Linked DNA regions of Homo sapiens. The protein of the gene in region 4 interacts with the protein of the main gene of each other region in a biochemical or structural test. Each region holds a gene or a part of one and is shown on either strand. Other genes may lie near its edges. The genes, in order: FLI1, FBXL6, L3MBTL1 and ETV6.

Region 1 (7,402 bases), on a different chromosome or scaffold from region 4:
AAAAGAGTAGCGTGGCTCCAGCAAATATTGCTTCTCCCAATGTGACGGTCAGAGCCTTTCCAGGAGCCGTTCTTGGAAAAGAGAAGAGAATATAATATGGAGGGACTTATAAGGAGGGCAACAAGATTGGGATTTTGTAATCACATAGAGTTGTGCAAATTATGCACAAAATAAAGGGCTTCTGTGAAGAAATCCAGACTTCCCTGGCTTCCTGCACCAAATACCACCTAAGTGCCAAGACCCACAGGTATTTTGAAATATAGACATGACTTATATTTGAGGAAGAACTATGCAGGTGCATAAAATCACATCCTAGAATCACTCAAACCTGATTTTTCCAGGCAGTTCAAACTGGAAATGGACACCCTGGATTTGTGTACACAAATTAGATTCTCTCTAGAGTGTCGTCAACCTCGATCAGTGTAGGGCTGGATTTAGTGCACATACAGGCAAGTGTTCTTGTAAACACATATGAGCACATTTTAGGCACTGAGAAGATTGGTTAGATACTACTGTAGAGGTAACCTAGTTCCACTGTTTCATTTTTGTGATGACTATGAATCTCAAACAGGCTTAATGGACGGTTCATTCTCACCAAGAGAGCAGAAGAATGCTGGCCTCTCTCCTGGTCCACTGTCCTCTCCAAGCACAGTATTTGAACTATTGTGGGAACAGGATCTGGAAACCCCAAGATCCAGAGGTCACATGCGAACAGAAAACTGTGGCTTTCACACAACTTAAACACCAACACACACACTAAAGGCTCAATCTTGCAGAATGCTTGGAGACTGAAGGTAGCTCTGTGGGGACTCAGCCTAGCCAGGTAACTTAGGTGAATGACAGGTTGCTCACAGGGAGGGTTTGGAGGAGCTCATGGCTCCTACCACCCACAAAAAAAGGAAGGACTTTCACTCCCATCCTTGGCCTGAAGTGTCAGGTTCCTGCTCTAAGCCTGTTCTCGAGGCCTGCCATGCCAATCCCTGTGTGTATCTAAAGAGGTTAGCACATCCTGGGTACACAGACCACAGCTTCCTCCTTTTGCTCAGGGCCTGTGCGTAGAGTTTAAGCAGTGTGGAGATATTTCTTCACTTTTCCTTAGGGTGTCCACATCAAGACCCTGAGGCCATCTTACCACCCTTCTGGATCAGAAGAGGCCTTCAGAGTAAGTGGTAACTGTCCTGATTGGGGCGAGGGAGTTTTCTAGAGGGGAGCATCTCATTACTAAACCCAGAAATACAGAGACACTTGCATGAACACATCAACAGGAAGCAGAGAAACAGGCATAAAATGGCCCAATGACCCCCACTCTCGGGTCTTTGCAGGAATCCCCTCTCACCTACTTCTCACCTACTCACTTTGGGTTTGAGGAACCCAGGCTCTTATAGGCTCTTATAGCTCCCTTTAACCCATCACAGTCAGTTATCTCATCTCCAGATTTGCAAGTTCCTTCGGTTGGTGTCTTTTACCTAAGTCAGCATATTTCAAACTTTCATAAAAAAAACTTAGAAAATAAAAACCACGACCCCACCCAGAAGATAAAAATCTCTTGAATTCTCTGAGCCCAACATCTTAGCCTTCTCTTGCTGAGCCCTGAGCAGGGAGTCGATTCTTTCGGGTTCTGGGGAATGGCGGGCTCTGCCAGTCCCCACCTCGCCAGCCTAATAGTTTTTCCAGACAGACTCCCGCTTGGTGTTGCGCGGCAGCCTCGAAGCTAACCCCTGGTCCCATTCATTCCCCTAGGTCCTCTAAGGCCCGTCACGTTAGGGGGTGTCCCTCCTCTCTGCTCCTGGCCCTACTTGGCGAACCCTTTCAGAGACAGCAGTCAACTTTTCTGAAGTGAGACGCGAACCCAAACCCTCACCTTTCCGCCTGGGTTGCACTTTGCAACCTAGACCCAGGCTTGGCGGCGGCGGCTGGGGTGGGAATGGCCGGGCGGGCGCGGGGCGCGGGCTCACAGCCGGCCCCTGCAACGGAGGCGGCTCCGAAGGACGCAGGACCCTTTCGGAGGCGACAGCTCCAGGAGCCCTGGTCCTGGAGCCGGCGCACGCCTAGGCGCGAAGGGCGGGGGCTCGGGGCGCTAGGGATCTGTGCGGACGGGGGCTGGGGAAGGTTCCCCGCCGGAGAGGCGGCGAGGCCGGCCCAGGAGTCCCGCGGAGCCGGCGGCTCTCCAGCGCCTAGAGCCGGGCGACTGAGTGCCGAGAGGAAGGGAAAGCGCTGACATGTAAACAGGGGCTTCCATCTGGAGGAGCCCGCTCAGATAGATCCCCCGACACACTCACTTGCACCCCTACCCTCGTGCAACGAGGCCACTTACCCACCCCAGGGCCCACCAGGCAGGGACCCGAGCCCGGGCGACTGCAGCCCCCGCCCCCGCCGTGTTCCGCCTCTGCGGAGAGGAAGCCCAGTGCCTAGCGCTGGGGCCACGGGAGCCCCGGGTGTCGGTGGGAGTGGTGGACCCCGAGGTCTCTCGCCCTTGACTCCGTTCCGTACCCTGGGGTCCCCCGGTTTCCCGCCGTCCCCTCCTGCAGCCCCGGCGGGCAGCGAGGTGGGAGGGGGGCCGGGGCTCCACTTTGGGGGCTGGGATTTCGGGGGAGGGTCGCCCTCAATGCGGGCGCCTGGCCGGCTGGCCCGCGAGTAGGACTCGCCACCCGAGCGCCGGAGGAGCCGGCGCGAAGCCGGGGCGCGGAGGGAAGGGAGAGAGGCCACGTCTTCCGGGACGCGGGCCCCGCACCTACCCGCCCGCCGCTTCGCCTCCCCGGCCGGTCCCCGCCGCCCGCGTCCGTTGCCCCGCCGCTTACCTTAATAGTCCCGTCCATTTGGCCAAGTCTGCAGCCGAGCCCCCCAATATTCCACACATTGACCCGGTTACAGCCTGACCTCGCAGCCCCTTCGGATTAGCCCGGCGCGGCCTCCCTGGCGCCCTGGGCCCTCCCTGCGTGCCCCCTGCGAGCGCCCTGCCCTCACTCCCCTGTGCACGTTTGTTGTTGTAGCGGAGCGAAAGAGACAGTTAACCGGATGAAACTTTTTTTTCAGCTAATTTTGGGAAGTGACTTCACTTTGCGAATCGGGGAGGAAGTCCTATCTCTCTCTCTCTCTCTCTCTCTCTCTCTCTCTCTCTCTCTCTCTCTCTCTCGCCTCGAGCTCTCCTCTCTCTTCTCTCCCCTCTGCTCTCCCTCGTCTTCCCTCCCCCCCCACACCCCCTCTTCCTCCCCTGCTGGTCCTGCTTTTCGCATCACACACTATATAAATATACGCGGAGATGCCCAGACACATTCATGCGCTGCGCACACAGGATACTTGCTCCTGGGAGATAAGAGCTAGCCGGGAACAATGACGGGGTCCACGCCCAGCGTCCGCGCCCTGATTCCCGAAGTCTGAACCTCCCCCCATCACCTTCCCCCAAAATCCAAAGCCAAAGACCTTTGGCTTCTTTGCTTTTCCTGAGGCGGTTGGCCGAAGGTGGCCCTCCTGACTCATTCACTTTCCGTTTCTTCCCACAGATACGTTCATTAATGCTTTTTCCAGCCGGAGACAAACTTTTTGGGGGTGGGGTAGGGGGGGTATGGAGGGAGAGTTGGCTAGGGCTGCGGGTAACCCAGCGCCTACTGCCGGGGAAGACTCGGACGAAAACCGAGGCAAACCAACCATTAAAAAGTGCATCCAATAAGAATTTTTCCACTCAGGCCCTCCGCTGCCGAGACGCGGCAGACTCCCAGAGCGGCTCACCCACTCATCGAAGCGGATTCTGGGCGGTTTCGGGCTGACCCGCGCTGTCAGGGCGCGGACTCCATTCCGGGCGCATTGTTAGGAGAAGGGGCCCCTCGGGGCGGCGCGCCTCGACCCTGGGCTCCCGGTGCCCGCAGAGGGCGGAGATCCGCGGCGCCCTAGGCCACCTATCCGCATCTTCTCGAGCCAAACCCCCAGCGCTTACCCGGACCCGACGGCCCAAGCACTGACTCCCAGGCAAGAGTCGCCCTTCCTGGTCCCCAGGGAACTGACACTACCGCGGGACGTTCCCTCTAGGACAGTCAGCAGGTCCCAGGAGCGCAGCACGCAACAGCGCAGAGCAGACCCAGACTTTTCCCGGGGTGAGACCCGGAGGCCCGCGCTCTGGACCGTCCTCCCTACCCAGCCTGGAGGCCGGCGTTCCCCGGCCCAACCCGGAGACCTCCCCGCCTCCCTCCTGGGCCGCCGCGCGCCCCAGTTGGAGCAGCCTCGAGGGGCTGGGCCCTTTCGGCCGGACTCCCTTCTCCCGGACATCCAAAACAGGTTACCTTGTCCACGCTCTCCGGACCACGCTTTGGACTTGCTCACTTTTATTTAAGAGTCCGACGGGGGAAAGAGGGAAAAAAAATCCAGAGGAGATCCAAGTCAATTGGAAGAAAAAATTTCAAAAGGGTGTCCACAGAGGCGAAAAAAGGTGACTTATTAATTCTTTATTTCTTCAGGAGCAATTGAGCCCGAGAGCTCACTCGTCTCCCTCCCTCCCCCTCCCTCTCTAGAAATTAGTCTCATCAATTCGGCTCCAATTTTGGGTTCGAATACAGACACGGGTCTGAACGTGACCAGACCTGGAGTGGCGGGTGCAGCCTGCCAGCAATTGAGACTTGGTGTGCGTGTTGGGGGTGGGGGTGGGGTGGATGGTGGGATGGGGGCCGGGCTGACTCCCCCCGCTCCTGTCTGCTTCTCAATCCAGGGGTCTGCTCCGGGGCTCCCCTGGGACCGCCACATCTGGTTACCGCTAGCGGGGTCAGTCCCCCCCTTTGCCTGGGGCCACCAGTTCTGGAGTTCAATTAAAAGAAATCAGGCTTAACCCTTTCCTCCCCGCGGCAGGCTGCCTGCCCTCTCACTCCTCCCTTCAGCGTTTCCACGTGCTTTCCAGAGAGGAAAGAGGTTAACGGGAAAGGAAGAATGAATTACATCCTTTCAAACCCCAAATTGTTTCCTTTTCAGCCCAGGCTCTACCGACCTTCAAACTACAACAGAGCTTTCAGGAGAATGCGGAGAGACGGCTTCCCACCCGGACCTCACCAGAAACCCGCACACCCCAGCCACATTGCTCCTCATTCAGCCAGAAAGGACTCCAACTCCACCACCAGGAGGCCCCCCTTCCTGGTGCTGGCCAGTTGCAGAGGCTGTTCATGGCATCCCACAGGTGGCGACTGCCCCCCACCCTCCTCCTAGCACTTTAGAGGGTCCCTCTGTGGCAGACACCATGGCTAGGTTTCTCTTTCCAACTCCTGTTGGTCTGGCAAGTGACAGATCATCTTCACTACATTAATCAGTAGTCACCCGAACATTCCTATACTGTCCCCCAATTCCTTTCAGCACCAGCTGCCTCCCCCACTGGAATTATTCAATATGGAACTAGATTAAATTGAAGACTTGCCCTTTAGTTTTTAACTGTGGAACTCCATCGCACTTTCTGTTTCTCCAAAGCTACGGCAATTTCATGGTTTTGGAGATGGGCGGGGGGTAGTGGAGAGCCTGGCACAGGCACCACTAGATGCATAGACACAGGCACCCCGGCCCTTTGGGACTCACAGACTGGCACTGGTGCCACTGTTGTTGGCGATTTTCAGCCCCCTGGGAGAAGCTCCTGTCCATTCACAGAGGTCTCCACCCAGAAAGAAGACCCCACCTAACTCTGACTAGATGCCTGCGGGAATCTCGGATTTCCTCCATCCAGTGTTGGCATGCCCGTAGGTCAGTTTGCCCCACTTTTATGTAACTCAGGGTTTGATGGTCAACTCCACTGCTACTGCTGCTTTTTTAAATCCTGAAAGGGGATGGGGGAAGCGCCCTAACCAAGCACAATAGTAAACAAGTCTACCCTGTTTAATGTGGTTACCACCAGACATCTGGAAAGATGGTTTGATCCTGGCAGCTCACATTGTTTTCACGAGCAGCCAAAGGGGATATTTTGAATGTTTGCATTGAGACAAATTGATAGAGAGCCTGCGGTGAGGGCCTACAAATGAAAACTGTCTTGTGTTAGTGGGGCAGACCTCCCCTTCCCTCTCCTCTCCCTCCTCTCTTCTCTCCTTCCTCTTTCCTTAGTCTCTGGGCCCAGCTTGGGGAAGGCTGCCCCTGCCCACACACTTGTGCACACCCTCTTTCCTGGCTTACCATGGCTCCAATGGCCTCGCCCTTTCCCAGACTGGGCAGAGCTGCTGAACAGGAGCTGGTATGAGTGCCATCGGCGACAGCTCACTTTCCAGCAGCTCGGGGCTGGTTTTCAAGTCAGAGGCAGCTCACAGCCAAGGAAGCTCTTCCCAGTATTTAAAACAAAAGCTACCAACTGGAGAAAAAAATGTCCCAACAACAAAACAGCCCACCACATGTTTCCAAGTCTGGGGTCACTTACAGAAACCGTGCACATGGGCGTGAATACTCAGGAAATATTTGGATTTGGAGCATTTTCATTTGGAACGCTGGTGAGACGACTTGCCTCGCACCATTCGCACTTGACAGTATTTTCAAAGATGCGGAAGTCCTGCTTCCCCCGGGAGGGGAGCGGCGGGTCGAAACGTGTCTTGGCTCGCTCAATGTCAGCCCTTTTGACCCGGTCAAGACTTTCCAGACACGGGCTTCCCGGGCTTCTTCGGCCCCAGACTGGGTTTGGGGTGGGCGGACCTGACGATCTGAGCCTGGTCCCTGGGGTAACAGACCCAGGGGTGGCTCCGTCACTTGAAACTCCGCAGGATGCCAGGCCTGGCAGAATGTCTCGGGCCGCTCCTCTCCCTCCGTCCTTCGTCCTCCCCTCCCATGCCCCTCTGGTCCAGCGAGGCCGCAGCGGGTATCCGAGCTGGCAAAGGGGGAGGAGGAGAGGGCGGGAGAAAACCGGAGGGGTGGGCGGGCAAGCGCCAAAACTCCAGACTGCACAAATGCAGCTTCAAGTGTCTGGCCTCTCGCTCGAGGCCATAATTAATTTGAGATTTATTTTTATTGGAGAACTCGAGTCTCGTCTGACCTTAGCCAAACAAGGCAGCTCAAGCCGCCCCTGGATGCGCTTGAATGCCGGGGAATATTTCTGCAGGAAGGCTCTGCAGGCGCGCCTGCTTTGAATTTGTTTCTCAGACTTCATCTACTCACAGAGTGAAGGAAGATTTAGAGCCTCTGCTCGCCTGGCCCGCTCCCCACGCTGGTTCTTGCCTTAGCGCTGAGCGGGTTCAGAACGCTACGTGGGAGGCCGCGGCGGCGGGAGGGCCGGGGGCGGGCGGGTTGGGGAGGAGGAGGGTCTCCGAGCCCCCAGACCACGCGGCGTCGCTGAGGAAACCCCGAGGGAGTCCAATCCTGACCAGAGAGAGCAGGCTGACAAGAGGTGGAGACCAGCCAGGTGTCCAGACCCTCGCCCAGTGGCGGATCCAAGATGGGGCCGTTGGGATGGGGCCAAGGTGGG
Region 2 (7,406 bases), on a different chromosome or scaffold from region 4:
ATCTGAAATTGGGCAAAGGTGGAGGGTGGGCAAGCTGGCTGAGGTGTCCCAGGTCTGTGGCTGCCTAGCTGGGTGAGGGGCTGGTGAGCAGCTGCTCCAGACACCACTGGACTTCCTCCAGGCCCCGGTAGGCCCGCTTCAGACCCCGGGGAAGGCAGCGGCAGGACTCCAGGTTGAGGTAGAGCAGGCCCGGGCAGCCGCTGATCACAGAGCTGTGGGGAGGGCAGACCACAGGAAGTTGAGCTGTTGCCTCAGAAGGGCTGGGCCAGGCTAGGGAGCTGTGCCTGCTGGTGTTCGACACCTGGCTCTGCCACCCATAGCCACCAAGGCCAAGCCCAGTTCCCCTGGTGTCCTCAGGCCCACCCCACGCAGGGGCTTGGACAGTATGCATGCCCCTCTGACCCCTGGAGGTCTCAGGCCAGGCAGGACACAACTTCCAGGCCCCAGGCAGACACAGTGACAGCCACACTGGCTCCAGGGACTGGGGTAGGGGATGCTGACCTGACAGTGCTTGGTGTGACCCGGGTGCCCCTGAGGTTAAGAGAGCACAGGGCTGGGTGTGAGCCCCCAGGGGTGCTTAAGAAGGCAGCCAGGGCCTGCTCCAGGTCCTTCTCACTGAACCCCTGGCCACTCAAGTCCAGTTCTCGCAGTGTATGGCACCACTTCTGGGTCAAAAAGGGGCTGCCCTCCTTGGCTAGAGTCAGCCGGTCTGACGTGCCATACAGGCCCAGATGAAGCTGCTCCAGCTCTGCAGTGAAAGGAGTGAGCATAAGCTACAAGGTGACAAGGGCCCCCACACCTCACCCGCCCGGCCACCACCCAGGACTGCTGACCCCGACATGGCAGATCCTGAAGGCCAGCCGGCGTGATGCGCGCACAGCCACGAAGATCCAGTAAGCGCAGGTTGGGAGAGCCGTGGAGTAGGCGGCCCAGGACCTCGTTGCTCACAAAGTTGCAGGTTGAGCTCGCCAGGCAGAGCTCCTCTAGGCTAGGGAAGCCTGGTCCGGGAGCCACCCCTCGTCCCGGAGGCTTGGGCAGCCACATCAGGTTCAACAGCCGCAGCACCTGGGGGCAAGGTCCAGGCTGTAGATGGGGGAGGGTGTGACAGGTGGGAGAGGCAGGGCGCCAGGTACCTGGAGCTGAGGGCAGCCTTTCTGCAGAGCCTCGACAGGCAGCTGAAGGGGAATGCTATTACGGTTGATGCCGGTGCTCACCTCCAGGACCTGGAGCTGGGGGCAGCAGCTGCCCTGCAGAGATGGGGGGAGGGGGTAGGTCACAGGGTCAGTGGCCTGGCAGTCCCCAGCTCAGCATCTGCCTCTGCTCCCACCAATGCCAACTTACCAGCAGTGCGCCCAGGATGGCTGTCGTCTGGGAGCTGTAGGTCAGCCACAACTTGCGCATTCGGGACCCTGCCTCCTCCAAGAAGCTCACCACAGCTGTGGACTCCACCTGGGGCCCCAATACAAGAGCACCCGTCACCCCGGCCTGGGTTTTTTCAGGGCCCCTTGGGACACAGGGCTCACCATGGAGTGCTGTAGGTCCAGGCTATGGAGCTGGCAGCAGGCTTTGGCTAGCATGACCAGAGCGTCAGCAGTCACACCGTGGCAGCCGGAGAGCTTGAGGAAAGTGAGCCGAGGACAGCACTCACCTACCAGCTGCGGGGAGACAGAGGGGCAGCTGGGGTTGGGAGACGACAGGCTAAGATCCACAAGGGAAACAGACAAGTGGCTGGTGCCAACCCCACTCTACCGCCTTAGCTGTGACCTCCTTTCTGCCCATGCCAGGCCTACTTGGGTGTCCCCGCCTCTGATACCTCCCTGCTGGAGGAAACAGCAGGAAAAGAGAACCAGGCAGGCAGGCAGACATCCCCACGGAGCAGCGTTGGGCCCCCAAGGTGCCTGACCCACTTCCTAGAGTACTGAACAGTCCCAGAGTGTCACAGCTGATGTGCAGGACAGCCTGGAGCTCTCACCTTCAACACGGGGTGTACCTGAGACTTCCAGTGGATGAGGGTCAGCCTCTGGAGCTGTGAAAACCTGGGCCGACAGCGGAGGCAGAGCTGCACTAATGTTCCCACACGAGTCCTTCCCACCCAACACCTTGGTGCAGGGAGACGGAAGGAGCCTGGAGCCAGGGGTAAGGAAGAGAGGGAACCCCTCACCGATTGGGCATAAGCCACTCCAGGGAAGCAAGGAGCTTCTTCTCCGCCTTGACCCCGCCCTTGGCAGGCCGGCCGACCAGCGGGGACGACAGGGTCACGGTGTGCCAGAGCGCGGGTTGGGAAGCGGCCTCCTGCCAGCGGCGGCACACGCGCGCAGCCCTGGGAGGACAGCGTGCTGAGGGTGCCGGCCCCTCCGTAGGCGATGCCCCCCTCTCGCAGCGCAGTAGACACCCCGGCTCAAAGCCGGGCTCCTGGGACTCCAACTGGGCGCCTAAGGGGCTGCGCTCTCGGACTGAGCGGTGCGCGCTCCGATGCTTTCGCCCTCCGCCCCCGCCCGGGCCACCGCTCGGACCACGTCTGGCCCAAGCCGCTACGCTCGGCGGCGGGCCCGGCACCAGCGTTACCTGCCCAGGAAGGGCATGGGGCCGTCCGCCGCCACCAACAACCCGAAAATCTGCACCAGGATTTCCAAGGGAATGCGGTCTCCCCAGCCCGCGTCGGGCCCTTCCTCGGGCGTGGGCGTGGGTGCCGGTGCGGGTGCGGGCGCGGCCGCCGCCTCGGACCTGAGCCCGGCCTTGGGCTTGGCCGCGGCGCTGGGGCCCCGGGGCGGCTGCCGGGGAGTGCGGCGGGAAGCGCGCCGCTGTGCGCGGGGCCGGGCGGGGCCGGGTTCGGACAGCACCAGCAGCATGCTGTCGGACTGCAGCAGGTGGTACCCCGAGCCCCTCGGCGCCAGCCGGTCCCACCACCAGTCCTCGGCCGAGCGGGGCCGCGGCGCTGCCCGGGCTCTGCGTCGGACCTGCCGGGAGGCTGGGGCAGCCATGACCACCGACGGCGCTCGGGGAAGCCCCAGGGAGCGGAACGGGCGAGGCTTATAGACCGACAACCCCCCGGTTCCTCTCAACGCCCGCCCGCCCGCCGACCAGCTTCCGGGGCGGGACTTCCGGTCGTGGGCCATGCCGGGGGCGGGCCCGGAACCGCCACGGGTGAGTCGGGTCGTGGCTGCTGCCGGGTCCTGCGCGCTCCGGACTGAGGTGGCGTCCCTGGGCCGGACGGCGGTGTCCCGGCGTGGCGGGAAGCCGGCACTGGAGCGGGAGCGCACTGGGCGCGGGACCGGGAGGCGCAGGGACCGGACGGCTCCCGAGTCGCCCACCTGACGGTACCGAGAGGGCGGCGCCCCTCCGAGCAGAGCCGTCCCGGCCACTCCCCTGGGATCTGACTTGGCTCTTGCGGTCGCGGGCACCGTGAAGCCCTGGGGTGTGCGTGGCTCCTCCTGGTAGGCGCCCTTTCCCGGCGTCCGGCTTGGGGTGGTGGTGGCGTTGACTCCAGCCCCGCCTCTCCCTGGAGAGGAGGGCTCCACTCGCTCCTTCGGCCTCCTCCCCTGGGGCCGCAGCGACTCGGGCCGGCTTCCTGCTTCCCTGCCTGCCGGCGGTCCCGCTGGGTACGTTTTAGCCAATCCTCCCCATCTGCGCTCCTGCCCGGGGCTCCCCCAGTTCCCCTGGTCTCACCCTGTTCTGACTCCGGCTCTGCATCCTATCTGTTTCTCTGTTTCTTTCAAGCTAGAAGAAGTCTTCACTTCCCAGGAGAGCCAAAGCGTGTCTGGCCCTAGGTGGGAAAAGAACTGGCTGTGACCTTTGCCCTGACCTGGAAGGGCCCAGCCTTGGGCTGAATGGCAGCACCCACGCCCGCCCGTCCGGTGCTGACCCACCTGCTGGTGGCTCTCTTCGGCATGGGCTCCTGGGCTGCGGTCAATGGGATCTGGGTGGAGCTACCTGTGGTGGTCAAAGAGCTTCCAGAGGGTGAGTGGGAGGGAGGTGCAGGTGTGCCCAAGACTCCTGGGCTGCGGTCAGTGGGATCTGGGTGGAGCTACCTGTGGTGGTCAGAGAGCTTCCAGAGGGTGAGTGGGAGGAGGTGCAGGTGTGCCCAGGAAGGTGGGCTTTGGCACTCTTCCTCCCTTGGGCATCATGACCCTGACATGGCCTCCTCCCTTCCCTGCAGGTTGGAGCCTCCCCTCTTACGTCTCTGTGCTTGTGGCTCTGGGGAACCTGGGTCTGCTGGTGGTGACCCTCTGGAGGAGGCTGGCCCCAGGAAAGGACGAGCAGGTCCCCATCCGGGTGGTGCAGGTGCTGGGCATGGTGGGCACAGCCCTGCTGGCCTCTCTGTGGCACCATGTGGCCCCAGTGGCAGGACAGTTGCATTCTGTGGCCTTCTTAGCACTGGCCTTTGTGCTGGCACTGGCATGCTGTGCCTCGAATGTCACTTTCCTGCCCTTCTTGAGCCACCTGCCACCTCGCTTCTTACGGTCATTCTTCCTGGGTCAAGGCCTGAGTGCCCTGCTGCCCTGCGTGCTGGCCCTAGTGCAGGGTGTGGGCCGCCTCGAGTGCCCGCCAGCCCCCATCAACGGCACCCCTGGCCCCCCGCTCGACTTCCTTGAGCGTTTTCCCGCCAGCACCTTCTTCTGGGCACTGACTGCCCTTCTGGTCGCTTCAGCTGCTGCCTTCCAGGGTCTTCTGCTGCTGTTGCCGCCACCACCATCTGTACCCACAGGGGAGTTAGGATCAGGCCTCCAGGTGGGAGCCCCAGGAGCAGAGGAAGAGGTGGAAGAGTCCTCACCACTGCAAGAGCCACCAAGCCAGGCAGCAGGCACCACCCCTGGTCCAGACCCTAAGGCCTATCAGCTTCTATCAGCCCGCAGTGCCTGCCTGCTGGGCCTGTTGGCCGCCACCAACGCGCTGACCAATGGCGTGCTGCCTGCCGTGCAGAGCTTTTCCTGCTTACCCTACGGGCGTCTGGCCTACCACCTGGCTGTGGTGCTGGGCAGTGCTGCCAATCCCCTGGCCTGCTTCCTGGCCATGGGTGTGCTGTGCAGGTACACAAGGACCCCCAGCCCCTGTGCGGGTGGAACTCAGGGCTAGGAGCCAGGTCCTGGCGCAGTCAGCCCTGACATTCTGCTCGCTCACTGCAGGTCCTTGGCAGGGCTGGGCGGCCTCTCTCTGCTGGGCGTGTTCTGTGGGGGCTACCTGATGGCGCTGGCAGTCCTGAGCCCCTGCCCGCCCCTGGTGGGCACCTCGGCGGGGGTGGTCCTCGTGGTGAGCACAGGGGGACATGAAGTGGGGTGGGGGGGCGTTGCCCTGGAGCAGGCACATCTCACGCTCAGCTGGTGCTGTGTCCCCCTCAGGTGCTGTCGTGGGTGCTGTGTCTTGGCGTGTTCTCCTACGTGAAGGTGGCAGCCAGCTCCCTGCTGCATGGCGGGGGCCGGCCGGCATTGCTGGCAGCCGGCGTGGCCATCCAGGTGGGCTCTCTGCTCGGCGCTGTTGCTATGTTCCCCCCGACCAGCATCTATCACGTGTTCCACAGCAGAAAGGACTGTGCAGACCCCTGTGACTCCTGAGCCTGGGCAGGTGGGGACCCCGCTCCCCAACACCTGTCTTTCCCTCAATGCTGCCACCATGCCTGAGTGCCTGCAGCCCAGGAGGCCCGCACACCGGTACACTCGTGGACACCTACACACTCCATAGGAGATCCTGGCTTTCCAGGGTGGGCAAGGGCAAGGAGCAGGCTTGGAGCCAGGGACCAGTGGGGGCTGTAGGGTAAGCCCCTGAGCCTGGGACCTACATGTGGTTTGCGTAATAAAACATTTGTATTTAATGAGTTGGCATTAATTCTTTGAGCACATCTCTCTGTGTGGATGCTTCCCTGAACTAGAGCCATGGCCTGGCCTGTTTAACAGGCTGCCTCTCCCCAGGCCCTGGGCAGGTCCTTACCCACCACAGGCTGGTCTCACGGATTGTACAGTCATGCCCTCTGAGCCCAGACTACCCCACATTGCTTCTTGGAACTGCCCTGGGCTCTCTGGGCCCACACGAGCTACCAGCTTCGGTGGTCAGAGGAGTAGAGGAGCCTCTTCCCGGCAAGGCCACTGCTCCACGAGCACCTCTCAAGGGCTGAGGGTTAGTCGGATGGGGCTGCGATGTGCCGAGCCCCCTGTCCACCCTTAGCCCTGGAGTGACTGTTTGCCTGCTAGCTTCCCAGGAGTATCCTGCTAGGGATTTACACCAGGGGGTTGGTGTGCAGGCACCGGGGTACTCAGTGAGGGGGACTCAGAAGAGACAGAGTTTAAGGTTTTAGCCCATCGGGACCGTTTGGCCTGAGCATTACCCCACTCCCCTGAGCCTCCACCCTCTCAGTGACAGCTCCTCCTGCAATCAGACCCCCAAAGGCCCCAAACTGTTTCTTCAGGCAGACTTGGCTACAGCTGTCTTCTCCCTGGGCTGCTGGCACACTGCCCCTAGCCCTGAGCAGCCTGGGCCTGTATGTGTTGGCATCTGCAGGGAGCAGGACCTCAGCACTGACCATGGTCTATCCTGGGCTGGGTGGTTCTTGGGCTCCCACAAAAAGAGCTGGAGCTGCAAAGGAACTAACTGAGAGGAGCCCCTGAGCCTGGGAGCAAGGATCTGGAAGAAAGTGCTGGGAGAGACCACGCCAAGGTAGGAGCCTGGCTTTCTTCACCTCGTGGGCCGCCACCCCAGGGAGGCAGGACACCGAACTGTGATCAGTATGACGGGCCTGGCAGCAAGGCCCATTCTCCCAGGCAAGAGGCCCCACTTCTGCAGAAGGGCCCCTGCAGCTACAGGGAGCGTGCAGGCACTGGGGATGGTGGGTCTGTTCCTGCTGCCCAAGCTCTGTCTGCGACGGTTCCGCTCTGCGGAGGCCCTTTCTCATTGTCCTTGAGTTGGCCTGCACACGGGCCTTTGAAGGCCTGGTCTTCCTCCCCACTTCTGCTCCCTCCTGTCTTGGCAGGACCATCAGAGGAGGAAGGAGCCCCTGTGACCCGGAAAGCCTCTAGTCTGGGCCCCATCAAACATCAGGGGGCAGGCCAGCTCCCAGGGGGGCTCAGGACCACCCAACTCTGAGGGCAGAGGCCACTGCCAGCTCCAGCCTTCCAGGATGCTGCCGCCTGAGGCTGGGCCCCTGCCCAGCTGACCCGGCTGCTTCCCTTTGGGGGTTGCAGGTACTGAGGGTTCTAGGGGGTGGGGGCTGAAGGTTGAGTGTGAGCTTCAGAAGTCGCCTGGTAAAAGAAGAAAGCTTCTGAGGGAGGATGAGGACAAGGATGGGACAAGGTGGGTGGTTTGGTGGCATGGCTGTGGGCAACAGGGCTCCTGGTCTCATGCTTGCCCCCTTCCCCTCATCGCTTTGCCACCACCCCCATCAGCACCGGTGCTTGGGGCCTGCCCTCTCCTGTCCACCC
Region 3 (7,311 bases), on a different chromosome or scaffold from region 4:
GTGGCTCACGCCTCTAATCCCAGCACTTTGGGAAGCCGAGGTGGGTAGATCACCTGAGGTCAGGAGTTCAAGACCAGTCTGACCAACATGGTGAAACCCCATTGCTACTAAAAACACAAAAAAATAAAAAAAAAATAGCCAGGTGTGGTGGCAGGCGCCTGTAATCCCAGCTATTTGGGAGGCTGAGGCAGGAGAATTGCTTGAACCCAGGAGGTGGAGGTTGCGGTAAGCCAAGATCATGCCACTGCACTCCAGCCTGGGCAACAGAATAAGACTCCACCTCAAAAAAAAAAAAAAAAGAAAGAAAGAAAGAAAGAAAATTATAAAACATAATTCCCTGAATTTCAATTCCAATTTGCTTTGCACAGCTGAAGTACTTGTACTATTTTAAATACCTTTAGAGTTAGGCTGGACGTGGTGGCTCACGCCTATAATCCCAGCACTTTGGGAGGCCAAGGTGGGTGGATCGCTTTGAGCTCAGGAGTTGGAGACCAGCCTGGGCAACATGGTGAAACCCCATCTCTACAAAAAGTACAAAAGTTAGCCAGGCAGGCCATGCGTGGTGGCTCACACCTGTAATCCCAACACTTTGGGAGGCCAATCACTTGAGGCCAGGAGTTCAAAACCAGCCTGGACAACATGTTGAAACTCCATCTCTACCAAAAGTACAAAAATTTAGCTGGGCATGGTGGCACACGCCTGTTATCCCAGCTACTCAGGAGGCTGAGGCAGGAGAATCCCTTGAACCCAGGAGGTGGAGGTTGCAGTGAGCCAAGATCGCGCCACTGCACTCCAGCCTGAGTGACAAAATGAGACCCTGTCTCAATAAATAAATAAATAAATAGAGTTAATCTTTTTATTTGAAACACTGGCAGTTAAGAGTGAATGTGGTTACTTCTGAAAGAATTTCACTCTGTGTCAAAACCTGTCACATCTCAGGTCTATTGAAGAAGCTGGATTTGAAGACTACGTTTCTGTTTGGGTTCGCTGCCTCTTTTCCAGCAAGCATGGGAGGACCAAGTAGGTGTCACCACCATTCTGTGCTCTGGGGTTACAGTCACAAACATGACAAAATGCTCTCATGAAGCTTATATTCTGGAGATAATGGATGAGGTTGGGGCTGGAGGTATAAATTTGAAGACCAGCATGTGTAGATGGCATTTAAAACCACAGAACTGGGGCGAGGCCTGGTGGCTCATGCCTGTAATCCTAGCACTTTGGGAGGCCAAGGTGGGAGGATCACTTGAGCCCAGGAGTTTGAGACCAGCATGGCCAACATAGTGAGGCCTCAGCCTCAACAAAAGATTTTAAAAATTAGCTGAACATGGTGGTGCACCCCTGTGGTCCCAGCTACTGGGGAGGCTGAGGTGGGAGGGTTGCTTGAGCCTGGGAGGTAAAGGCTGCAGTGAGCTATGATCACACCACTACACTCGAGCCTGGGCGACAGAGCAAGACCCTGTCAGAGAGAAAGGGGAGGGGAGGGGAGGAAGGAAGGAAGGAGAGAGAGAGAAAGAAAGAAAAAAGAAAAAACCACATAACTGAGTATAAAGAAAAAAGTGGGAACTTTGGAGCACACCCACATTTATAGGTTGGGAAGAGGAAAAGGGTCTAGCAAAAGGGACTGAGAAGGAGTCTGCCATGAAGTGAGGGGGGACTCAGAAGAGTCTGGGTTTCTGGTGGACACTGAAGAAAGTTTTCAGCCTTCTGCCGTCAGCCTCTCTTGGAACTGCTCTGAGCCTAGGGAGCTACCTCACTTGAAGGCTCTCCTAGAAGCCGCCAGCCAATGACGAGTTGCTATGAGGTGTAAAGACCCCACCCCCTTGCCTTACTTTGGAACACCTCTGCAGGGCCATCTCAGTTCCAGAGCTTCCATTAGGTCAGGCTGAGGCCTCTGTTGAGACTACATCAGCAGTTCAGCTTCTTCTTCCGCCCAACCCGTCATTCCCCTACTGGTGATATTCGCAAGAGCACTCCGATAAACCTACACTCAAATCTTGCTATCGGAGTCTGTTTCGGGGGACCCGACCTAAAACAACCATTGTAGCCCCAGCCCAGAGCCGTGCACATAGCAGATGCTCAATAAATATCTGTTGGCTGAATGTGTCCATGGGTATTTTCTCTTGATGTCTGACAAGGTTTTCTCAATCCCTTGCCTTCCAAGGCCTTGTATACAAAAACGACCAATAAATGTCCTTACTATAGGTGTTGGGTGGGGAGTAGAGCCCTCGACAGCTACCCAGAAAACAACACACAGCAAGGCTGAGCGCTACAAACTTGGGGCCTCGGCCCCGCCCCTCGCCGCAGCTGCTTCCCGGACTCGGGAGGGGACGGAAGCGGCCCTGAGCGCAGGGTTCCAGGATCGGGACCCGCCACCAGCCTCCCGGGACTGGTATAGGCAAAGGCGGGCGGGGCGGTCACTGATCCGACAGTTCCGCAGAACGGTTACTTTTTAAAACGCTAAAATGGCGGAATTCTTTTTATTCTTTCTCTTTATGGCCAAAAAAAAAAAAAGAGAGAGAAACAAAAAAAATTCCATATTCCATTATAAAAATCCAAAATTAATGGTAGGAAAGTTTGCCAAATGACTCATTCATTTCCCAAGAAAACCAAAACCCCGCCCTCCACACCTTTCCATTAATAAAAAAACTCTTAATTGATTGCGTATCTCCAAACACGCAGCCTCCACCCTCCTCGCCCCTCCTGATCGCAGCCCGAAGCCACGCCGCAGGGTCGGCTGGGCCTGGAGTCCCGCACCCGCCTGGCCCCCTGCGCGCTCCGCCCAGACCGCTTTCCCCGGCGTTTTCCCGAACCTCCTCCCCAGCCCGCGCCCCCCGCCGGAGGCGCTCGGAAGGAGCGAGACGCCGGGGCCGCAGACCTGAGCCCTCGCCGCCCTGGACGGAGCGGGGTGGCGCGGCGCCCAGGGGACGCAAGGTCTGAGCCCACGCACCGCTGGTTGCTTACCTGCCTGGCCAGCCGGTGGCCGCCCAGCGCCTAGCTACGGTCCGAGCCGGGCGCCGCGCGCCTGCGCGTTCGGGGGGCGGGTCCGCCTCCCTGCAGGACGCAGAGCGCGGGGCCCGAGCGCCGGGCACATCTGCCCGGCCCAGGCGCAGGCCCAGGCTTCTGTGGCGCCCGCGCCCTCTTGCCTGCCTTCGAGGCCCTGGTTGTGCGCGCCTCATGCCCCCTCAACCTAGGACAGGTTTGCCGCACGGGCGTGGCGGGTCGAGATTTTTCCTGCCCCCGAACCCCTGCATCACAGCTAGCAGAGCGCAGCGGGGGCGCAGGGACCGCGGAGCTCGAAGAGAGAGCCTGGAGGGCTACCGAGCTGAGTGGTTAGTGACAAAAGACGAGGCTGCACCCAGGCATGCACCCCAGCCGAGTGTCTGCTCTGTCCAACGCCTTCCCACCGCGCCTGCCCTCACCCTGGAGGGGAGCTCAGGAGCGTCAGAAAACGGCCTCAGGAAGGGTGAAGGGCACGTGCGACCGGAGAGAGGAACCCTCGTGCGGGGACTCTGGTCCTGGCCCTGCCGGGCATAAAGAGCGGCATTAGCCGCGTCTACTTTTGGGTGACCCCACTGCGAAGGGCTGGGTAACATCAGTATCCCCCAGGTCCTCCATTTCGACATTGGTAAAGACTATCACCCACTTCATGGCGTATGGTCGTTTTCAGTTTGGGTTCCTGTGGTGGTGTAGCAATCACTGCCCCTCTCTGCTTCACTTTGACTGATCTCTTCGCCTCCACCTGATCTCTCTAATTAATCAAATCTCCTTGTTATTGGTTCTGGTAACACAAGATACCTGTCTCGCTTACACATACCACAGCTGGCACTTCACATAGATTTGAGTAATTCCAGAGGCTAAGAGGTTTCAAGCTCCAAGAGGGTAGGAAATATTAGTTTTTGTATTCCTAGTACCTAGCCCAGAGCGGGGCACAGAGTGGGTGCTTAATAAATATCTGTTGAGTGACTAAATGATGTAGGGTATGCAGATGAAAACAGGGTAACTTTTGGTACAGTCCACCATCCAGCCCCTCTCCCACACCAATGATTTAATTTAATCCCTTGATTTTACTTGGCCTTAAGTCATGGCCACATGTCAGACCACCAGGCTCCTGATTCCCTCCCAGGCCAGATGAGAAAAGGGTTCCTAATGAAATGTAGGCAAATTCTCCAAATTGCTGTGATCGACAGGTTTAAATTTATGCAGAATTTAACTATTCCGGTTGCCACGCCAACGCATTGCATGTGTTCTTCCTTGCTGCAATGTCAATTTTTAATCACATCTCATATTATTGGGAACAGGATTGCATCAGTTAAGGATGCTGGTTGCCATAACGATGGATGCCTTTTTCTACACATTGATACATACACAACCATCCGCTCAGTATTCTCTCATCTCAACCTAGACTGTGCGTGATCTAGATTTCAAAGGTTTATTTTAGGTATTCAGAAGATTAAAAGAAAGTGGTGAACCTACACAAACACATGGATTCTCAAAAACAAAGGCATCTTTTAGATGGTGATTAAGACGGATAAGTGGAATTTGAGCTAGCAAGACCTAGAAACAAACAACTAACATGGATGTGAGTTGCTAAGACATTATTTTTCTGGCTATCGACAGTATTTTTGTGCCTCACGCCTGTAATCCCGGCACTTTGGGAGGCTGAGGTGGGAGGATTGCTTGAGCCCAGGAGTTTGAGACCAGCCTGGGCAACATGGCAAAATCCTGTCTCTACAAAAAAAAAAAAAAAAAAATTAGCTGGGTGTGGTGGCGCATAACTGTAGTCCTCCCTAGCTACTAGGGAGGCTGAGGTGAGAGGGTCGCTTGAGTCCAGGAGCTCAAGGCTGAAGTGGGCCATGAGTGAGCCACTGCACTCCAGCCTGGGCAACAGAGAGAAATCCTGTCTAAACAAACAAAAAATCTCTCTCCTCACCCAAGAAAAAAACTGTATTTTTGTGGTCTTGATACCTGGCTTGTTGGCTTGAACAGGGGTCAAACAAACAAACCAGGTATCAAGATCACCAAATCCTGGGGTGAAGAGCTGCTACCACGTTAATATGATTTGGAGAAGTTTCTGCCTCATGAAGCCAGAGTTTCCCCTTCCAGTACCAGTCTGCCTTCAGGAGCAAGTAAGCAAGTCCAGTCCTCCCCTCAAGTGATAGCCCCCTCTTCACAAGTTCACAGCCCCCATTGTCTTCTCCATGTTAACCCCCTGCTCAAGCATGGACCCAAAATATTTTGAAATATTGATGAGTCAAAGCACTGAGAAGACTGTTGTTTACGCCAGGCATAGTGGCTCACACCTGTAATCCCAGCACTTATGCCAACGTGGGAGGATTGCTTGACGCCAGGAGTTCAAGACCAGCCTGGTCAACATAGTAATGAAACAAGAAAAGTTCCCTTATCCCCCTAGCAGGGTGTGTGACAGCGGGGGAGTGGCTTGCTTCCTCAGTGCCCTGCAACTCAAACCCTAGGGGGAGCATACAGACGGGCAGGTAGTGGGGAGCGTGGGCTCCAACCCCACAGCAGCATCTAGGGTTGAGTATTTACAGCTCCCGAAGCCTCAGTAGACGTGTGTTACTGTGTGCTCTTCAGTTTAGCCGTCCGTAGACAGCTCGTTTTAATCAGCTCAATTAGACCCTCTGCCTTATTGAAAGGACAGAGAGTTTTCTGTATCCTGGGTTCTTGCCCTAGTGTACTGGAAAAATCAGATTACACATGGGCTTGGAGAATGAGTGCAAGGTTTTATTGAATGGTGGAGGTTGCTCTCAGCAGATGTATGGGGAAACAGAAGGGGAATGGAGTGGGAAGGTGGTCTTCCCCTGGAGTTGCCTGGCTCTCCTTCAACCACCCTCAGCTGAATTTCCCTAGGCATCCGCATCCTTCTGCAGTTGATGGCCTGTCAGCGTCCGTGTGTTCTTCTGATGTGTTCCTCTCCATATCCAGCCATTTGTATGTGTGCCCACTAGGGTATTGGGGTTTATATAGGCACAAGATGGGGGGTGTGCGGGCCAGAGTGGTCTTGGAAAATGCAACATTTGGGCACAAAAACAGGAGTGCCTGTCTTCACCTGGGTCCATGGGTGGGGCCCTCACCAGGGACCCTGCCTTTCTCTACCCAGCACTTCCCTGCCCCACTCCTGTATCAATGACAGACCCCCTCCAGTCTCTACAAAAAAATTAAAAATTAGTTGGGTGTGATGGCACATGCCTATAGTCCTGGCTACTTGGGAGGCTGAGATGGGAGGATTGCTTGAGCCCAGGAAGTCAAGGCTGCAGTGAGCTGTGATCATACCACTGCACTCCAACCTGGGCAATAGAACAAGACCCTGTATGTAAAACAAACAAACAAAAGAAAACTGTTGTTTCTAAGCAGCCCACACCATTCTGTTCCTACAATAGAGTTTCATTCACCATTGAGACTGTCTGCAGATTTTTAGGGAAATCATCAGGATGTGCCCTTTATGTATAAAAACACTTCTGGTTCCAACGTCAGACTGAGCTAGTATGGAACGTTTTAAAAACTTTTTTTATTTTTATCTTTTAAATGTAGTTACATAAAATAGAGACAGGGTCTCCCTGTGTTGTCCAGGCTGGTCTCAAACTCCTAAGCTCAAGGGATCCTCCTGCGTTGGCGTCCCAAAGTGCTAGGATTACAGGCATGAGCCACCGCGCCTGGCTGGGAACCTTTTCTAACACAAACACCAGAAAACCCTGCCTATTATATTACAAGAAAGGAAGCAAGCAAGCACACAGGGAAAGAAAGTAAATTCATTGCTGGCCGGGCGCGGTGGTTCATGCCTGTAATCCCAGCATTTTGGGAGGCCGAGGCGGGTGGATCACGAGGTCAAGAGCTTGAGACTATTCTGGCTAACACGGTGAAACCCTGTCTCTACTATAATTATAAAAATATTAGCCGGGCGTGGTGGCGGGCGCCTGTAGTCCCAGCTACTCAGGAGGCTGAGACAGGAGAATGGCATGAACCCGGGAGGCAGAGCTTGCAGTGAGCTGAGATTCTGCCACTGCGCTCCAGCCTGGGTGACAGAGCAAGACTCCGTTTCAAAAAAAAAAAAGTAAATTCATTGCTGAACGTGTAAGAGGAAATCCTCAGGAGTCAAAAACAAAAAGGGAACCAGAGCAATAAGATGTGGCCTGATGTCTCTCTTGTCCTGGAGGTGGTTGTTGGATACAGACAGGACCCAGCTGCTAGAGACTTGGGTTTTACTACACATGTAATGATGGGAGATGGAACCTTGGGTCCATGTGGCCCTGAGAGTTGGAACTGAAGCCCATGTATAAAGACTGGGGGGCCGGG
Region 4 (7,475 bases):
CTGCCATTGCACTCCAGCCTGGGAGACAGAGCAAGAAAGTAAATAATGAATTACATAGGCTTAACGGTAAATTGGAAAAAATCAGAGGAAGAAAACTTAGAAAGAAATAAGTAGAAAGCGTTCAAATTGAAACAAGGCAGGTGTGGTGGCTAGCACTGTAATCTCACTTTGAAAGCTAAGACAGGAGGATTGCTTGAGAACAGGAGTTCGAGACCAGCCTGAGCTGATCTCAAAAAAAAAAAAAAGGAAATACAAGGAAATAAAACAGAGTATTTGAGATACATGGAACAATAATATATGGTCTAATACTTGTATTAAGAATAAAAAAAGGAAACAGAATGGGTGTAAAAATATTCAAACAGATAATAAATGACAATTTTCTAAAACTAATGAAAGATACCAACCCACAGATCCAATAACTGCAGCTGACATCAAGGTGAATAAATGATAAATGCAAAGAAAACCACTCCTGTGTACATCATAGTCAAAATTCTGAAAACCTAATTTAAAGAGCAGATCTTAAAAGCAGCTACAGAAAAAAGTGTACACTGTACACAGGGGCACCAAAATATGTACTACAAGTGATTTTTTAGCAAAATATGAAGTCAGAAGAGGAATGACATGTTTAAAGTGCTGAAAGAAAAGAAAATGTCAACATAAAATTTTACGTACAGTAAAAATACCCTTCAAAAGTGAACATGAACTAAAGACATTTAGAGGCAGACAAAAGCTGAGAGACTTCTCCAACAAACAGCACACAGGCTATGCTGAGTGAAGTTCTTGAGGCCAAAGGGAAGATACCAGATGGAAAACCAGATCTGCAAAAAGGAATAAAAAAGTACTAGAAAGGATAAATATCTGGGCAAATTAAAAAGAGACATACTTTAATACATTCATTATATGCATATATTTACAAATTTCTAAATACCATAAAAATACAATGTAAAATGAATTTTATAACATATAGAAGTAAAATATAACACAACAATACAGAGGATGGGAGAGGGATAAATGGAATTACATTGTAACTTTTTTACAGATTCATAAAATAGAATAATATTATTTAAAGGTAGCCTGTGATAATAACATACGCAAATTGTAATTTCTAAAGCAACCACCATATTTAACATAAAGAAGAAAATCTAAAAAGACAATCTAGTAATTTAAATGGAATATGAAAGAAAAAAATCCAATTTACCCATAAGTTCTCAGAAAACAAGGAACAGAGAAACAAGCGACAAATGGAAATGAATGAATGAGAAAAACTTCCCTCAACCACTGTTATTGAACACTGAATGGCTCTGCAAATAAGCTTTTACTACAGACTCAATAATGTTTCTTTATGAATTTAACCTAAAACTACAAGGCAAAATAGAGCTTATATGCAAAACTTAAACTGCAGTAAAATCATTTTGACACAACTAACATTGTTTGAATCACAAATAATGTCAAGCTGTTTTACACACTTCTCATGCTGTCAAAAGTTAAAACAAGAAGCAAGATCTCCATTCCAACACAAATTTGCAGCAGTTATGTTTTTCTGAACTCAAACTACAGTACCAACAGTGTTTTCTGAATTTCAATGCAAGTGCAAAGGAAATTTTCATATTTAAAATTTACTTAACTGTGCAACTGAGAAGCTTCCATTTAACCTTCAACTGGAAGTGATTAATCTGCAATGTAATGGCATGCTAAAGGGGAAATATCAAGAGAATTTATAGAATTCTAATAGAATTTTAGAAATGCCTTCTAAGCAATGAATACACTCAAGTAAAATCATGTGCTCATGGGTTGGTATCAGTATTTGGCGGTATCTGTCTGGGTAGAAAGACATTTCAAAAATGAAGTACATAAAATCTCATAAAAAATCAGCATTAATAGATGAACATCTGCAGTCAATTTTTATGAAAGAACACTTTGAACACCAAGTGAAATGTTACTTTCCCCCCAAAAGAATTCCATGCCTTTCATTATTATACCTGTATTAAAATTGCTATTATTACACTTTGAATTGACAAAATAAAAAACTGTGGACTTTTTTTTCTTCGTGTTATATAAGTATCTACCTGACATTCTCAATTTTGTCTCTTGGCCCACAAAGACTAAGGCATTTACAGCTGGGCCCTTTACAGAGATTGGCAACCCCTGGTCTAAATGTAGTTTTTGCTACAGTTGTCAACTATGTTTTTTGCTTTGGAACCACAAACATTCTACTTCAAACTACTACTTCTATGAATCACTTGTAGACGTTGAGGAGGAGTTAGGAAGAAAAGTCGAGAACTAATTTAGTCCTGGGGTTAAATAATAATTGTAGCCAACTTGAATTGAGCACATATATTGTGCAGCTCTCTGCTAAGGAGGCATTTGTATATATTTTCTTATTTAATAAGATAATCTTATGAGCTAGGTACTATTTCTCCCCATTTTACAGAAGCTTAGTGACTGTGTTGTCAGGGATCACATTGCTAAGTGATGTGGAAGACATAACCTAGCAATGGGACATCTAAACCAATGTCTGCAACATCAATTAAGAAAAGCAAAAGAGGCCGGGCGCGGTGGCTCACGCCTGTAATCCCAGCAATTTGGGAGGCCGAAGTGGGTGGATCACGAGGTCAGGAGATTGAGACCACGGTGAAACCCCGTCTCTACTAAAAATACAAAAAAGATTAGCCGGGCGCGGTGGCGGGCACCTGTAGTCCCAGCTACTCGGGAGGCTGAAGCAGGAGAATGACGTGAACCCGGGAGGCGGAGCTTCCAGTGAGCCGATATCGTACCACTGCACTCCAGCCTGGGCGACATAGCAGACTCCGTCTTAAAAAAAAAAAAAAAAAAGCAAAAGAATACAGAAAATTGTTAAAGGGGAGAAGGGGGTGGTCAAAGGCAGAGGAGTCGGTGTGGACAAGACAGAGATCTCTTGGAGAGAGGGCAGGACTACCAGTTGACAAAACCTGTTCAGGTTCCTGGAGGCTCACAACCACCAGTTCCCATCATCCCAGCAACAGCACTCTTTCCCACCCTAGCCTCGTTCGTAATGATCTGATCAATGTGTGAACAAAAATATTGTGTGTACAAGTCTCAACACATTTGATAATGTGAAGAGGTGAAGGAAAGTGGGTAGGAAAAATCTGTAGGGTGGGGAGACTCGGGGAAATGTGTCCTGGTCCAGTGCAGGTAACATATATGGGTATATATGCGTATATACATATTTATACCATATTTAATATATTACTCTATTAAGAAATTATAACAAATTTCCTTTTACATTACACATCCACATATTAAACCCCCAATATGTGCTAACAAGGTTAGAATTTAAGTATAATGATAATGTTCTCAGTTTTTTGTGGTGGACACTTTAAGAGAGTGTAAATAATAATAAAAATAATAGAGTGATCAGATCACTTGTGCTCAGGGCTAGACCCTTCAGCCCCAACGGCCTTAACCCCCCTCAACTGCTTTTCCAACCAAATATTCCTCCCCCTGCAGGATCCCAGGGCCATCCAATCAACCGGCCAATGACGGTTTCAGAGAAGCGGTCCTGGGGAGGGGTATTATCTGCAGGAACACGTCCTGCCAACTTTGTAGTCGAGTCACCTATTTCGGTTGGTAGCGGCCGCTATTTCTTTAAAAGGGCAGTGGATTTCGAAACAGGAGGGGGAGGTCAGGAAAAGGAACTCAGCTGCCTTTGATAACTGCCCTGCAGCCTTCCCTTCCCGGAGCGCGTGCTCGGCTCGGGAAGCGCCCGCGGCCGCCGCATCCCCGAGCGGGCGCGTGGCGCCACCTCTTTCCGGGGCGCCCACCTTCCCCGGGAATCCCCCCGCCCGACGGTCCCCCAGCGTCTGCGGCGCGGCCGCCCCGGCTTTGTCTCCGGCGTCGCGCTCGGGCGCCCGCTCTCCCCACATTTCCCCGTGTGCAGGCTGTAACCCGATCTCCCATTTCCTGGTGGATTCTCTTAAAGAGGCAGCGGTCGAGAAGCAGAACAAAGGCTATTGTTTTATTTCCTCCTTCGGATTCCGCGTCCTAACCGGAATGGCCCTTCATAGATAATTACTTTCGTTGCATCTGCGCTTAGTGAAACGTTTCAAAACCCTTGTGCACATCGATGTATCCAAGAGACGGAGCCAGGGGAGGTGGGAGGAGTTTAATAAAACCTGTTTTGTGGTGTCTGGGGCCACAATGTAACGTTTTTTAAAGGTGTCTTCCTTAAGCCCGGAAATTGGCTCGGCCAGCGGGAGGTCTCGCGGCGTGGAGGGCGGGCGCCCGCACCGGGGGCCGGCCTGGGGGGCTGCGCCGCTCGCCCCGCTCGCAGCCGCGGCCCCACGCGGCCCCGCTACCCGGGTTTCCTCCGCCCGCGCCCCCGCGGCCGCCCCTCCCCCGCGCAGCTTTTATTTCCCCGATGCCGGGCTGTAACCCGAGCTTTTATTTCCTGGTGGCTCCTTTAAGAGGCAGAGCTCAGTGCTGGGAATTCACGTCAGTTTCTGCACTGAAACTCTCAAGATCAATGAGCAAAGAGCTTTCTCAGTTCTGCCTTTCAGTTTCTCTCTTCCAGGAAGGAAAACATTCGAGAGAGCGAGGGAGAGCCGCGGGAGGGCGGGGGGCGGGGGCGCCGGCTGCGGGTGGGAGGAGAGACCGGGAGGCCGGCCGGGCTGCGTCCCGGGTCCCCGCGCCGCGCCGCGACCTGCAGACCCCGCCGCCGCGCTCGGGCCCGTCTCCCACGCCCCCGCCGCCCCGCGCGCCCAACTCCGCCGGCCGCCCCGCCCCGCCCCGCGCGCTCCAGACCCCCGGGGCGGCTGCCGGGAGAGATGCTGGAAGAAACTTCTTAAATGACCGCGTCTGGCTGGCCGTGGAGCCTTTCTGGGTTGGGGAGAGGAAAGGAAAGTGGAAAAAACCTGAGAACTTCCTGATCTCTCTCGCTGTGAGACATGTCTGAGACTCCTGCTCAGTGTAGCATTAAGGTAAAAATCTTCTCCCCTCCTTCTACGTGGTGGAAACCCTGAGCTGCACCGGCCAGGGCAGTCGTGCTGGGCTCCTCAGAGCAGGCTGTTGCAGTTGCTCTGTTCGCAGGAAATTATTTGGGGCGAGAGGGAAAGAGATGCAGCTCGCGGTGGCTGCTGTACCCTTTAGCGTAACCTTGCTACTCCCCCCCACCGCCGAGCCCCTGCCGGCTCCTCGGCCCCCACCCCCTTGCTTTTTGACAATGAAATGCCGGTCACAATTGGTCAGAGCAACCCGGATTGTCTCCAGAACCGTAAAACACCCCCGTAATTAGTGCGCTTAAAAAAAAAAAAAACAAAAAACAAAAAAAAAAAACCTGCTCCCTATTCCTACACCCAACATGTGACTGAAATATAACTTTTGTTCCCGAGGGGTGGTCGTCTTAGAAAAAAAGTTGTTCAGTTTCCACTGCGATAGAATCTTTTTATTTTTTTAAAGGACTCTCTGGGTCTGATCAGACAGGATTTTTTTCCCCCTCGTCTGATTGTAATTGCAAGCGCTGTCGGAGAGACAGTCCTGGTGTCAGCTTTTCCTAGGCATTGCACAATGAATTTTTTTTTAAAACCAAGGTGAATAAAGTTGCTGAATAGTTATTTTACTCCGATCCATATGAAAGTTGAGCAATCCCAAAGTAGAAAACTCCTGTGATGGAGGGAGAGGAAGAACTAAGCAACCAGGCAAAATGACCTTCTGTGTTTGACAGTGCAGAGAGGCTATCTAAGCAGCACTCTGTAAATGCAGGGCGGTAGATGTTTGTAAACACACTGCTGGGCTACCCAGTAGTTGTGTGTATGCATGTCTATATATCTGTAAAGACTGTGGTGCTGCGGTTTGTTGCTTCTAAAAAGTTGTTGTAAAGTTTGCCACCATTGGGAGGCAGGATGATTTATCCATCTACCCGTGTTATTTTTCCCATCGCTGCATTTATTGTACACTTTATTCATTTCGCTGTTCCACCAGTACCCAGGTAGAAAGCCTTCCGCTCTTGTGAGAGGCTGAAGCTGCTGAAGTTTGTTTTTGGTTTGGCCTATTTAATGTGTGTTCACTGAATGGACACTACAGCAACAATGAACAAATAACCTGTTTTCTTCGTCTGTGGGGAGTTAGAAAAACCCTTCCTGGTTTAACACTGCCTTTCAATTAGAGTCTGTGTAGGGGAAACGCAGTAGTTCATCATACGTGCTTACTAGGTTTTTTATAATTAGAATCACATTTTGGTGTTTCTTATCAGAAAAGATATTCATGGGTTTGAGGATAGGCTAATGTGAAATCAAAAGGTGGTTTGGGCTTCTTTGTTTTTGCCTCACAAAAATGCCTAATGGAACTTTTAGGCTTTTGTGTTTGTACATAACTGGAGGTAGCAGTATGTATGTCTGTGGGCATGGGGCGTGCCACACTAAAGAACTTAGGGTACTTTGATATTAATACTTCAAAACCAGTTTCTTTTGCGGTATAAATTAGATTCTACACAGAGTTCAGGAAAATCCTGCGGTATAGATAATCTAATTTATTTGACGCTTCATAACATAGAGGTAACTAAATAGTAGGATATTCAATAAATAAATTGTATTTGGCTCAGTGGCAATAAACCCGACATCAGGAAAATCTGCCAACTACAGATCAGTAACTTTAGGGCAAAAACAACAAAAAACAATGCTTTCTGTGACGTTTCTTGATCCTCTTCTATACTGCATCCCCACCGTTTTGATGGGCTTATGGTGGTGTGCTGGCTGCAGACTGCTACTGAGTGGTTTGTTTCATTGTGCTCCAGTCGGAAAAAGAGTACAACAGTCCCTTGCCTTACTCACATACAGAACCAATCCCAAGCAAAACGCGTTCTTAAATGCAACATGAAAATTGTCTGTAATTTGCATATCATTTTTTTCCTTATTGCTTACAACTCAGTTCTTTCAGGGTGCCTCTTTTCATTACTGTGTACTTCTATGTAATTAAAATAGATTTAATGTTCTTTACCAGAAAGGAAAGAATCACTTTTATTTTGGATCGTTCTTTATGGAACGAGTATGTATTTGCTTAGACTGCATGTGTCTAGGTGAACGTATGTGAAGAGTATCTTTCCATGGAGTTTGTTTAATTCAGTGTTCCAATAATAAGCACTAGAGATCAAGGACTGGGATTATTCCAGGTCATCTGAAATGTTCTGGTGATGTGTGCTGCGTTTCATTTAGTCCTTGGGATGTGGTACGGTGACTGCATAATAAAAAATGTTTGCTGGTAACCCACAAGCAAGTTGCTTGCTTCTAGAGTCCAGTAAACAATATGCTTTTCTGTGTAGTGAAGAACGAATGTCAGAGGTTTTCAAGGATGAGCTGATGAACCTGATATACCGAACTCCTGTGACACAAAAGGCTCTCACTGTGGAGAGGTTTTTCCCAGTCCTCCTCTCCACTCCTGAAACCGTCCTCACTTGCTTTCATTCCTTACAAGTAGCGGGTCAGCAGGCAGACAGTTCCTCAGCG

Evidence for each region.
Region 1: the proteins of ETV6 (region 4) and FLI1 form a complex in vitro, tested with the Homo sapiens proteins (one study listed by BioGRID).
Region 2: the proteins of ETV6 (region 4) and FBXL6 form a complex in vitro, tested with the Homo sapiens proteins (one study listed by BioGRID).
Region 3: the proteins of ETV6 (region 4) and L3MBTL1 form a complex in vitro, tested with the Homo sapiens proteins (one study listed by BioGRID).

The regions. Positions count from the first base shown.
Region 1 is NC_000011.10:128,689,673-128,697,074, reverse strand, and holds the start of FLI1 (Friend leukemia integration 1 transcription factor), read right to left. Parts: upstream 3,004-7,402; 5' UTR 2,817-3,003; coding exon 2,799-2,816; intron 1,163-2,798; exon of another isoform or gene 1,052-1,162; intron 616-1,051; exon of another isoform or gene 596-615; intron 1-595. UniProt on the Homo sapiens protein: Sequence-specific transcriptional activator. Recognizes the DNA sequence 5'-C[CA]GGAAGT-3'.
Region 2 is NC_000008.11:144,355,467-144,362,872, forward strand, and holds the start of FBXL6 (F-box/LRR-repeat protein 6), read right to left. Parts: upstream 3,007-7,406; 5' UTR 2,982-3,006; coding exon 2,566-2,981; intron 2,321-2,565; coding exon 2,162-2,320; intron 2,037-2,161; coding exon 1,973-2,036; intron 1,656-1,972; coding exon 1,524-1,655; intron 1,450-1,523; coding exon 1,342-1,449; intron 1,248-1,341; coding exon 1,134-1,247; intron 1,066-1,133; coding exon 834-1,065; intron 749-833; coding exon 502-748; intron 213-501; coding exon 65-212; 3' UTR 1-64. Other genes in the region: SLC52A2 (solute carrier family 52, riboflavin transporter, member 2), read left to right, coding at 3,828-3,957, 4,157-5,027, 5,124-5,247, 5,337-5,549.
Region 3 is NC_000020.11:43,503,395-43,510,705, reverse strand, and holds the start of L3MBTL1 (lethal(3)malignant brain tumor-like protein 1), read right to left. Parts: upstream 3,010-7,311; 5' UTR 2,962-3,009; intron 1-2,961. UniProt on the Homo sapiens protein: Polycomb group (PcG) protein that specifically recognizes and binds mono- and dimethyllysine residues on target proteins, thereby acting as a 'reader' of a network of post-translational modifications.
Region 4 is NC_000012.12:11,645,206-11,652,680, forward strand, and holds the start of ETV6 (transcription factor ETV6), read left to right. Parts: upstream 1-4,468; 5' UTR 4,469-4,922; coding exon 4,923-4,955; intron 4,956-7,475. UniProt on the Homo sapiens protein: Transcriptional repressor; binds to the DNA sequence 5'-CCGGAAGT-3'. Plays a role in hematopoiesis and malignant transformation.